2 separate regions of the Homo sapiens genome follow, and region 2 is linked to region 1. Evidence: fine-mapped QTL for protein levels in blood plasma. A gene starts in region 1. The other region holds a variant in brackets. All regions are shown on one strand. Distances are between the middles of the regions. Region 1 holds the start of CSF2 (colony stimulating factor 2). Region 2 overlaps LOC107986449 (a long non-coding RNA gene).

The links. A credible set is the group of variants that fine-mapping cannot tell apart. PIP is the chance, under the fine-mapping model, that this variant and not a neighbour inherited with it causes the effect. Protein levels are from antibody-based Olink assays in UK Biobank. Linkage for the fine-mapping came from a reference panel and not from the study's own genotypes, which makes the PIPs less certain.
Region 2: its variant is the best candidate, but not a certain one, in a credible set for the plasma level of the CSF2 protein (UK Biobank, PIP 0.62).

The regions. Positions count from the first base shown.
Region 1 is chr5:132,069,357-132,074,732 of GRCh38, reverse strand. CSF2 (colony stimulating factor 2) reads right to left here and starts at 944. Exons shown (of 4, transcript NM_000758.4): 1 at 751-944; 2 at 611-652. The coding sequence starts at 909.
Region 2 is chr5:130,801,477-130,806,852 of GRCh38, reverse strand. All of the region lies in intron 3 of LOC107986449 (a long non-coding RNA gene), which reads left to right. Among named protein-coding and RNA genes, the nearest start is that of HINT1, 360 kb to the left of the region's middle. The variant A/C (reference allele first, on the strand shown) is at 2,872.

The DNA.
Region 1 (5,376 bases):
GCTGCTGCCCCCAGCCCCCAGGAGTAGGGCTTGGGAGGGGCACAGGCTGGGTCCAGTCATAGACCCTGCCCTGTCCATGGCAGGCACGAACCTGCCCTTCTCACTGCCCCGCCCAGGCCACCCTCAGCGGCACCTGGAGAGGAGCCCAGCCTTAGGGAAGGAGGTGACTCTCACCCCATCATTCAGGGAGAGGGGGGTGGGGCCTCACCTGGACCTGCTGGGTGGGCAAGGGTTGTTCCTGAAACCCCTCTGTGCCTCTCTGTAGTCAGCACTGTCTCAACAGGACTTGGTCTCGGGGCACAGTGAGCGCCCCAAACCCACAGCTCCTGTCTCATGAAGTGACCCCCACTTTACCACCTGTCCCCTGGTGACTCCTGGCCATTGAATGCTAGGTCTGCCCATGGCCGCTCAGCTGATAAAGGAGCTCATGTGACTGCCATAGGGGCACGGCCAGCAGCCTCTTGAGCACCCAGTTGCTACCCCCTCCTCCTGCAGCCAGCTGACTGGAGAGAAAGTGGACAACCCTGTGTGGTGCCATCTAAAATGGAGTCCCCACCTCCACCCCAGGGCAGGGGCTTCTGGAAAGCTATGTCAGAGAGAAGCATCTTACCTGGAGGTCAAACATTTCTGAGATGACTTCTACTGTTTCATTCTGTAGAAAAGGAAAATGTCATGTTATCAAGCTGACAGGCGTGGCCAGTCAGGGGCCAGCTGGGTGGCCTAGGCACAGGCCCACATTCTCTCACTTACCATCTCAGCAGCAGTGTCTCTACTCAGGTTCAGGAGACGCCGGGCCTCCTGGATGGCATTCACATGCTCCCAGGGCTGCGTGCTGGGGCTGGGCGAGCGGGCGGGTGCAGAGATGCTGCAGGCCACAGTGCCCAAGAGCAGCAGGCTCTGCAGCCACATCCTCCAGAGAACTTTAGCCTTTCTCTCTGTGTACTGGGCTCACTGGCAAAAGAGCTCTTAAATACACAGAGGAAATGATTAATGGTGACCACAAAATGCCAGGGAGGCGGGGGAACTACCTGAACTGTGGAATCTCCTGGCCCTTATCAGCCACACATGGGAACGGTGAGCCTTTTCCCTAGGTGGTCAGGCTTGGGGGTTTTCATTAATGAACCTTTCCAAGAACCGACAGCCCACCCACCCGCCTTCCTGAGGGCTCTCCAGCCCTCCCTGGGCAGTCTGAATGGGCCTGAGGCTGCCCCCTCCCTCTGAGGGGCACAGTTTGGACTTCCTGGCCTGGAATGGCTGGGGTGGGGCGTGGGAGACACTTAGATAGGGCTCCCCATCCTGCCTGTAATCCCAGGGGCCTTTGGGCAGGCTATGCCCGCCCTGGTGCCTCATTCTGACTCCAGCCTTCCTCTTCTCTGGCCACTGTGAGAGACTTGAGTGTGAGGGGAGCTCTCACAGACCTGCCCCACTGACAGTTCACATGGGCTCCCACCCAGGACCTGGAGCAGGGGGCAACCTCAGTCCAGTAAGGGGGGACCCCTGCCCCTGTGAGCAGAGGGAATGACCACCATGTGCACATCCAGCAGCGAGACTGCAGCCACTCTCAGCAAGCTTCAGAGGGGGTGTGGCTGGGTCAAGTCGGGACCCAGAGTCTGACTCTTGGCTCTGGAGCCACCTTCCTGAGTGACTCCCCTCTCTGGTTATGTGAACCTTGATTCCCTCTGCAGAGCAGGTTTGCCCCTCTGAGGTTCGGACTACACTCCTATATGTAGCCCCCAGAAGACACCAGGAGCTTCAGGCTGGCTCCAGGGCTGTGGCTGCATCCATCTCAGGTACAGGGACAATGGCTTCCCCAGCAAGGCCCTCCAGGCTTAATTTCCTACATAACCCCAGCATCCCCCAACTCCAGAGGCCTTTCTGTGGAAGTGTGGAAGTAGGAAATCTAAAGGCTCTTGAGGGGCTGACAAGTGTTTGATTTTCACAATGGAGTTCAGAGAAGACAGCACGAGTTTGTGTTTGCACAAGGTATCTGGCTCAAGCTGCCCCATGCCTGGGTTTCATAGCTAAAGGGGTGTGGGCCCACACGTGCCCATTTCTGGGTGTATGTGTGCTGCTGTGATTGGTTGTACATACAGGTGCCTGGTAGAGGGGAGGATGTTTTCCATGCAGATGCATCTATTGAGTCCTCTTACCTGCTTTATGAAAGGCTCCAGGCCTCTGAAGGTGACTCTGATACTGGAGAAGCTCCCTACTCCAGGTGCAGTGCCTCTGGGCCCTAGAGGCTGATTCAGCCTAAACCAGTGGGGTTGGACACAAGCGAGAACATTCTGCTGGACTCAGGTTGGCGAGCCTTCAGAGAGCAGGTGGAGTTCATGGCTTTAGCACTGTGGTCTGAGTCTGCAGCCCTGGCCAGTTTCCCTGTACTGTGGGAGTTTTTCTGACCTTGCATAGAGAAACCAAACCTTAGTCCTCCAGACCCCACTGTGAGGCCAGCCCCATCCATCTGAGCCTGCGTAGAACACTCCTAGTGGCCAGGCTGGGGTGGGAACATGAAATGTCCAGGCCCTGGCCCTTTCTCCACCTTTTTTGCAAGGCCTTGGCTCAGCTCTTTCCAGGGAGCTCTCGGGGGAGAGATGAGGACATGGATACTACATGTAGATATCACATGTGTTGGATAGCACCCTGGAGGCTGGAGGGCAGGGAAGGGAGCCATAGATAGTGGTTCAGCTGATGGCCAGGGAGGCAGAGAGCCTGTATGACCCATCTGGGAGAGAAGGTCACTTTCCTCCTAGAAATGAGTTGTCATAGCTCAGACAGTCAGTCAACAAGTCTTTCCAATCCACACCAGGACCTGTTCTGGGGAGGTAAACGGGACCCTCCCACTGGCCCTCACATTTGGCCCTTGAGGCTCCCAGTCTGGTAGGAAACAGACTGCAATGGACCCTCCCATGGTGTGACCTTGACTCGGCAGGGGGAAGTCCAGAGCTGAGGGATCCCAGAGGGCCACCTTCTCTAGCTTGGGGATCCAAGGGGACCAGAGAGCTTCACTAGAGATCCTGCCTGCAAGCCCAGGCTGAAAGGCTAGAAGTCAGGTGGGTACGTTGGGTTGGAAGGAGAGGGGCAGGAGAGGACAGGGGAGAATGTTCTGGGCACAGGGAGCCCTGGGGTTTTAGGAATGGGTATAAGGAACAGCAGGCAGACTCCAGAGAGATTGAGGAGGTAGAATCTCAACAGGACTTGGTGCTATAGTGAAGTCACTCAGTCATTCATTATTTTTTGAGCATCTACTAGGTTCCCAGCAGGGAAAAGGGACATAAGGATGACAAAAACGGTCAGGGTCCTGCCTCCAAGGACTTTTTAACCCCATCCATGGAGGAGCAAGATTAGTCTACTCACCCCCCTCCCCCCCCACCAAAGTGTGCTTTGAATGTGAGTAAGAGGAGTTAGAATCACTGTCCACATGGCTAAGGTGAGGACCCAGGGGACAAAGGAGCAGATCTTCAGAGCGTGAGGCCCACGGGAAGTTTTGGAGTTTCAGAGTCTGCATGTACAGGAGACAGATCTGGCAGCGGTACATGTCTGTGTGGTAGCTGAGGCCACGGAAGTTATTCAGGAAGAAGAGCTGAGGGCCAGCAAAGCTGTGTTTAAGGGCTGGGACATAACAGATGGGCAAGTAACAGGCCAGTGGCCAAGGGCCTAGGAGGGAAGGAAAGGAGGAAAGCAAGAGTCATAATAAGAAATCCATTTCGGCAGTGGTGGCCTGCAGGTGCCCAAGTCAGCACAAACAGGACAGAAATCCATGGGTTTGGTGATGAGGTTTGTGGGCAGCCACACATCTTTCTCATGGAAAGATGACATCAGGGCTGAGGCCATGACACAGGCAGGCATTCCTAGATTGCACTGTATTTTAAACAGTGTCAACCGATAGCCAGCCATGCTGACTCAGGGGCTCCGATGGGGCTGTGGCAGGGCAGAGGCGGGGACCACGATGGGTGGTATGACCCCTCTGGGGCCCCCCTTCCTACAGAGACAGGAGAAAACCCTCTGGAAGGAGTTTCCTATGCGTGTCCACCCCACAGGCTCTGTAGGAAACAGGGGCTTGAGTCACTCCAGGATCCTTATCACGAGAGACATTATCACAAGGGGAAGGAAATGGGCCTCAAAGTCCCTTCGGTACCATGGCACCCCCGCACAGGCTTTGGGGCTGATCTGATCCTTCTTTGACCTGTCCAACCCTTGATGAGGGTTCTTGTTATCTCTGGGGACCTGAGATCTGGGAGACCAGTGGTCAGCCCAGTCCACACAATCAGTGACCGCAGAACCAGAATTTGAACCCATATCTGTTCCTGCTATCCTAGCATTTTCCATTGTCTTGGGGTCAGGAAGTTGGGAAATGCTGATCACCTGGCTGGACCAGCAGGGGGTGGACCCAGCGTGCTTGTCCCCTCAAGGCAGCTGTAAAGAGAGATGCCTGCCAGGTGTTCGCAGGTAGGCTGGAGTGGCCTGTGACTGTCCCAGGGAAGTCTGGGCTGAAGGCAGAGTTTCCCCAGCAGATCCTGCCATCCAGGCATCTCTATGCCCCAGGCTTGGGCTCTTGCCCTTACCCAGCCACCACCAATCCCTGAAGCCTAGGAAAGTCCCTCCTCCCTGAGCCTCAACCCCTGCATCTGTACAATGGGTTAATGGCCACTGCCTCACCGAGGAAACTGTTGCCTGCCCCAGGAAACTCTGTGGGAGATCCTCCCAGGGAAGAGACAATCCTTCAATTTCTCCTCTGCCCAGTGCTAGGGGAGATTTCTGAAGCCCAAACTGGGCAGAGGAGCGAGGCCTGCTGGAGTTTCCAGGGACAGCTGCCCCTTGCCCAGCCCTAGCCGCAGAGGGCAACCTTCTGGACACACGTGGTGAGGTAGGGAGTCCGGCCTCCACCTGAGTCAGGGCTCCTGGGTCCTGCATCACCGACAGGAGATCCTGGTACCGCATGGCACCATGAGTGGTTTGTCCTTCCCTTGTCACTCCAGGCCACACCAGACATATGAAGCAACATCTCTGGCTTCTGCGGTTTCAGCCCCATTCTGTCCCCACGTGCATCCCCTCTGTCTCGGTCCCCAAATGTACACCTCAAAAAGGGAAGCTGCCCTCGCCAAGCTCCAATTCCAGTTTGGCCTCTTGGTATTCCCAGGTTCCTGGCACTGGGGAGTGCCAGGGAGGCCTGGGAGGATCTGAGGGTGGTTAACCCTCAACCACATGTGGTCTCTGCATCTATTCAGCCAAGCTTCCGGGAGGGTTTGCTGCGGAGTACGCACCTCACAGGCCCCTTGCACTCGGAGAGCTCACTTCTGGTGGTCCCATGGGGTGGGGGACAGGGAGCACAAGGCCCACACTCATAGGCAGAGACATGGAGACCATTTGCTGTGATGG
Region 2 (5,376 bases), 1.3 Mb after region 1:
ATTTCAAAACACAATCATGCCCTTCCAACAGTCCCCAAAGTCTTAACTCATTTCAGCATTAACCAAAAAGTCCAAGTCCAAAGTCTCATCTGAGAAAAGACAAGAACCTTTCATGTATGAGCCTGTAAAATCAAAAGCAAGTTAGTTACTTCCTAGATACAATGGGTGTACAGGCATTGGGTAAATATGACCATTCCAAATGGGAGAAAGTAGCCCAAACAAAGGGGCTACAAGCCCCCTGCAAGTCTGAAATCCAACAGGGCAGTCAGTAAAACTTAAAGTTCCAAAATGATCTCTTTTGATTCCATGTCTTACATCCCGGTCACACTGATGCAAGAGGTAGGCTCCCACAACCTTGGGCAGCTCTGTCCCTGTGGCTTTGTAGGGTACAGCCCCACTCCTGGCTGTTTTCACAGGCTGGCATTGAGTGCCTGTGGCTTTTCCAGTTGCAAGGTGCAAGCTGTTGATGGATGTACCATTCTGGGGTCTGGAGGATGGTGACCCTCTTTTCACAGACCCTCTAGTGAGTGGTCTGTGAGTGGTCTAGTGAGAGTCCCCAGTGGGGACTCTTGTGGGGGCTCCAACCCCACATTTCCCTTCTGCACTGCTGTAGCAGAGGTTCTCCATGAGGGTTCCACCCCTGCAGCAAACATCTGCCTGGACATCCAGGAATTTCCATACATCCTCTGAAATCTAGGCAGAGGTTCCCAAACCTCAATTCTCGACTTCTGTGCACCCACAGAAGACCACATGAAAGCTGCCAAGGCTTGGGGCTTTCGCTCTCTGAAGCAATGGCCCAAGCTGTACCTTGGCCCCTTTTAGCCATGGCTGGAGTTGAAGCACATGGAACACAGGGCACTGTGTCCCGAGGCTGCATAGAGCAGTGGGGCCCTGGGTCTGGCCCACAAAACCATTTTCCCTCCTGGGCCTCCTGGCTTGTGATGGGAGGGGCTGCTGTGAAGGTCTCTGACATGCCCTGGAGACATTTTCCTTACTGTCTTGCTGATTAATATTTCACTCCTTGTTAGTTATACAAATTTCTGCAGCCAGCTGGAATTTCTCCCCAGAAAATGGGCTTTTCTTTCATATTGCATCATCAGGCTGCAAATTTTTCAAACGTTTATGCTTTGCTTCCTTTTGAATGCTCTGTGCTTTGTCACTAAGAAATTTCTTCTGCCAGATTACCCTATATCTTCTTTCTTGAGTTCAAAGTTCCACAGTTCTCTATGGCAGGGTCAAAATGCCACCAGTCTCTTTGCTAAAGCATAGCAAGAGAGACCTTTGCTCCAATTCCCAACAAGTTCCTCATCTCCATCTGAGACCACCTCAGCCTGGACTTCATTGTCCCTATCACTGAGAATTTAATCAATTAAATCAATACTGGGCAAAGCGTGTCTATGGTAGTAATGGAAGCAGGTAAGGCTACTATGTACCTAATAGTCAGATGTTATCTTTATGATAATGGTGAACTTTTGAAAGTTATTTGAAAATGTCCTTTCTAAAGAAATTTCCATGAATCTAAAAATAGTAAGGCTAAGAAATGCTTTTGTTTACATATACAAGAGCAGAATTAGATGTGATCATAATAAGTAAATGTGGTGTTAAAATGGCAGTCTTGCTCCTTGAGAGGAAAAGGCATTGGAACAGCCATTTTTAATGTGTCTTTTACTTAAATGTTGCCAAAAATTCTTCCATCCAAGTACATGTCCTTTTGCAAATGATTAAGCAATTAATTACTCTTCTCTACCATATCTGCTAAGTTAAATGTCACATTGATTGAGAGATTTTGAATTGTTTTATGCAGCTTTCTCAATCAGATCATATGTGGTTTTTATAAAATGGTGTATTCTTTTTGACATTGTACTTACCTTTTAGAAAAGTCATAAAAGCGGAAAAAACTGATGAGGTTTGAGGCTTTTGGTTCATTGTATCTTTGTGGAGTCTTGACCCATATTCTCATGGAGCTAGAGGATAATTAATGTTTCCTGTGATTTATGATATCCACCTCTAGGAAACTACAAGAAATTATTCTTCCCTGCTACCACTCTCTGTTCTCTGTCTGCAGATATGTTGAAAGAAATGTAGCTTTTGCTCATAAATTTCATCATTTGAGATTGTTATTTCAGTTGAGTATTATCAGAAAGCATTTCTAATAATTAACTCTTGTTGCATACCTGTAATCAGAAAGGGACCTTCTTCACTTCACTGCACTGCTGTGCTGCAGGATATTAAGCTGGCAAGCATGAAAATAGCTTTGTGAACAGCTGGGCTCATCACAGTGAAGCTTGAGATCAAAGCTGCCAAAAATGGAGGGCGCTTATATTCACCAACCCAAAAGAGATGGTTTTGGCCTTGAGAGAACATTGCTGAGCATAGGAACAACAGATTAATGGGAAAACTGTTGATAAAGCAGTAACTATCATCCTTGAACTATTTAATCCACTGAAACAATTGAATGACTTCTTAATCCTTAATCATTTTAAATGATTCAGACCTGTTGAATAGAGGTGAGATTATCTGCCTCTTATCAACTCTCATAAAATATTTTACACAAAGTGAACCAAATTGCATGCAACATAGGACTATGTGATTAAAATGCACTTAAGTGCTCACCCTTACAATGCCATCCAGATACATTCTAGGAGAGCAAAATGTTCTGAAAAATATTCAGGTGCCCTTGAAAGAATGAACAGTGAACATATTGTCATTAGGAAAATTTAGCCTCCTGTGAGATAACTTTCAAAATATTATCAATAATGGATACTGCCATCAGAACTATCTCCCTAAAATATATTAGACTATTTTTACTATCCTATGCTCTGTGTTCAGTTGCTTAAAAAATTAAATTCAAAAGTGTTTGGCATTCAAAGC[A/C]GTTTATGCTAGCACCTCAGGTTACCTCTTCAGCCAATTCTCCCACTACTCCACTGTGTGTATTCTGACCTAGTATTCTGTCATATTTTCTATTTCCTAATAATGTTAGATAATTCCAGATTTCCTTATATGGCTATACTGATCTCTCAACTTGCAATGCTTTCTCTATATTTTTTTACAGTTAAAAAAATATTGAAGGCATTGCTCAAATGCAACATTCTCTTTTAAACTTTCCTGGATTCTCACAATTAGAATATATATATATTTTTTGTTCCAGGCTCTTATAATGCTTGTATTTCCATTTTTAATGCTTGTATTTCCATTTTGACTTGCATTGTGGGTAGTTTTTACTGTTTCTCCCAAATATTTGAGTCTCTGTGTGTAGGGCCTATGAGTAATTCAACTTGTGTTACCCAGAGCTTAGCAATTAATCAGAATTTATTTATTGGTCATTGATATGGTTTAGCTGTGTCCCCAACCAAATCTCATCTTGAATTCTAACTCCCACAATTCCCACATGTCATGGGAGGAACCCAGTGGGAAGTGATTGAATTATGGGGGCAGATTTTCCTGCGCTGTTCTCATGACAGTGAATGAGTCTCATGAGATCTGATGGTTTTAAAAATGGGAGTTTCTATGCACAAGCTCTTTTTGCCTTGCTGCCATCCATCCAAAATGTGACTTGCTCCTCCTTGCCTTCTGCCTTGATTGTGAGGCTTCTCCAGTCATGTGTAGGTATGAGTTCTCCATTAAGCCTAATTCCTTTGTAAATTGCCTAGTCTCAGGTATGTCTTTATCAGCAGCATGAGAACAGACTAATACGGTCATTCTTTGCAAGATGCTACTTGCTTTGGATACAAATATGAAAAGACATGGTCCCTTGCGTGTGTTATGTGCTTATGAAATACATGTTGAGTTGACTGATTAATGAGAGAAAGGTCTGAGTTCTCCACCTCTGATAATGAGTTGCCACTGTTATAGTTCTAGAAAATCTGATAAACAGAGTGAAGATATTTTAAAATACTGACAGTTCTTGTGAAGAAAATCAGTGAGGTTGAGATATGTCAAGATAGAACATTAACTTCCTAAGTTTGAGCTTTGCTATAGCTGCTTTGTGTCATGATTTAACAAGGAGAATCATCTTCTTATTTTGTCTGAGTCTTAAAGGACACAGCTTTGAAGCCTTTTCTATGGATGGTTGGATACTATCAGTTTCACATGTAATATGTAGGCACATTTATAGAGCTTTGAATTTGTGGAGTCTTTTAAAAAACTGATTGTGATCAATATTCACATTCTTCCAAAAGCTCAAGAGCCTCCATTGAAAAGCCCCCTGATATATAAAAGATATAAATTTGAGTACTAATTATAGCTGAGCAGTTAGTTTGGGAATATGGTATAGAAAGCCTTGATTCTCTAACTAAAAATTTTGAATTTTTAATTAGCAGTAACAAAACACTGAAAGTTCCAAGTAGTTGAATGACTTAATGTCCATTGTGTACGATGCATGTTAAATGTGCTGAAGTAAGGTGGATATGTTGGCTGCACAATAAGTGATTGAAGATTAGAGACCAGATATAAATATAGCTTCATTATTGGTGATAGATGATGAGAACCATGGTGAAAGTTACTTTGGAAATGAAAAAGACAGCGCAGTGTTGTCAGAACCAATTTGGAAGATTTATCAATAGAATCTAGTGATTGATGAGAGACATGGGGAGGAGGGAAAAATGTAATAAAGATGATAGGCCTGCATGCCTGGGAGCACCTTTTATGAGGGAACATAGGAGGAGGAAGATAATTGGAGAATGAGAGATTGCGCAACCAGCATGACCTAGGTTGTTTCAATAATGTTAACTTCCAAATCTCAGTGGATTAAAATGTAGTAACAAATATTTATTTCATGTTGTTACTGTGTGTTTATTTTGTCCTGGCTGGCATTTCTGCTCCACATTTTCCTCACTCTGGGGCCCAGGCTGACAGATCAACCACTGTCTGGAAAGTTACTAGTTGCTTTGGCCCAGGTAGAGGGAGAATTTGAGGGTCTAGCATCAGAAATTACTACAGCCTGGAAGTGAGAGTGGCAAATTTAAACCATTGTCAGGTGACACTATCTTCTTCTAATGCCAGTCAAATGGGATATTTCCTGTTCATTGCTTATGGCCTCACCCCTGATTTATTTCCCCCAGCCTTATTGAGGCATAATTTACAAATAACAACTGTATATTTTTAAGGTGCAAAACATGGTGTTTTGATGTGTGTACACATTGGGAAATGATTACCACAATCAAGCTAATGAACATATTTATCATCTTACGTAATTAACTTTTTTTTGTAGTGAGAACACTTAAGATCTACTCTCTTAGCTCATTTTAAGTATACAATGCAGTATTATTAACTGTGGTCACCATGCTATACATTAGATCTCCAGATGTATTCATTTTGTATAATGGAAATTTTATCTCCTTTGACCAACGTCTCCCCAGTTCCCCCAACCCACCAGCC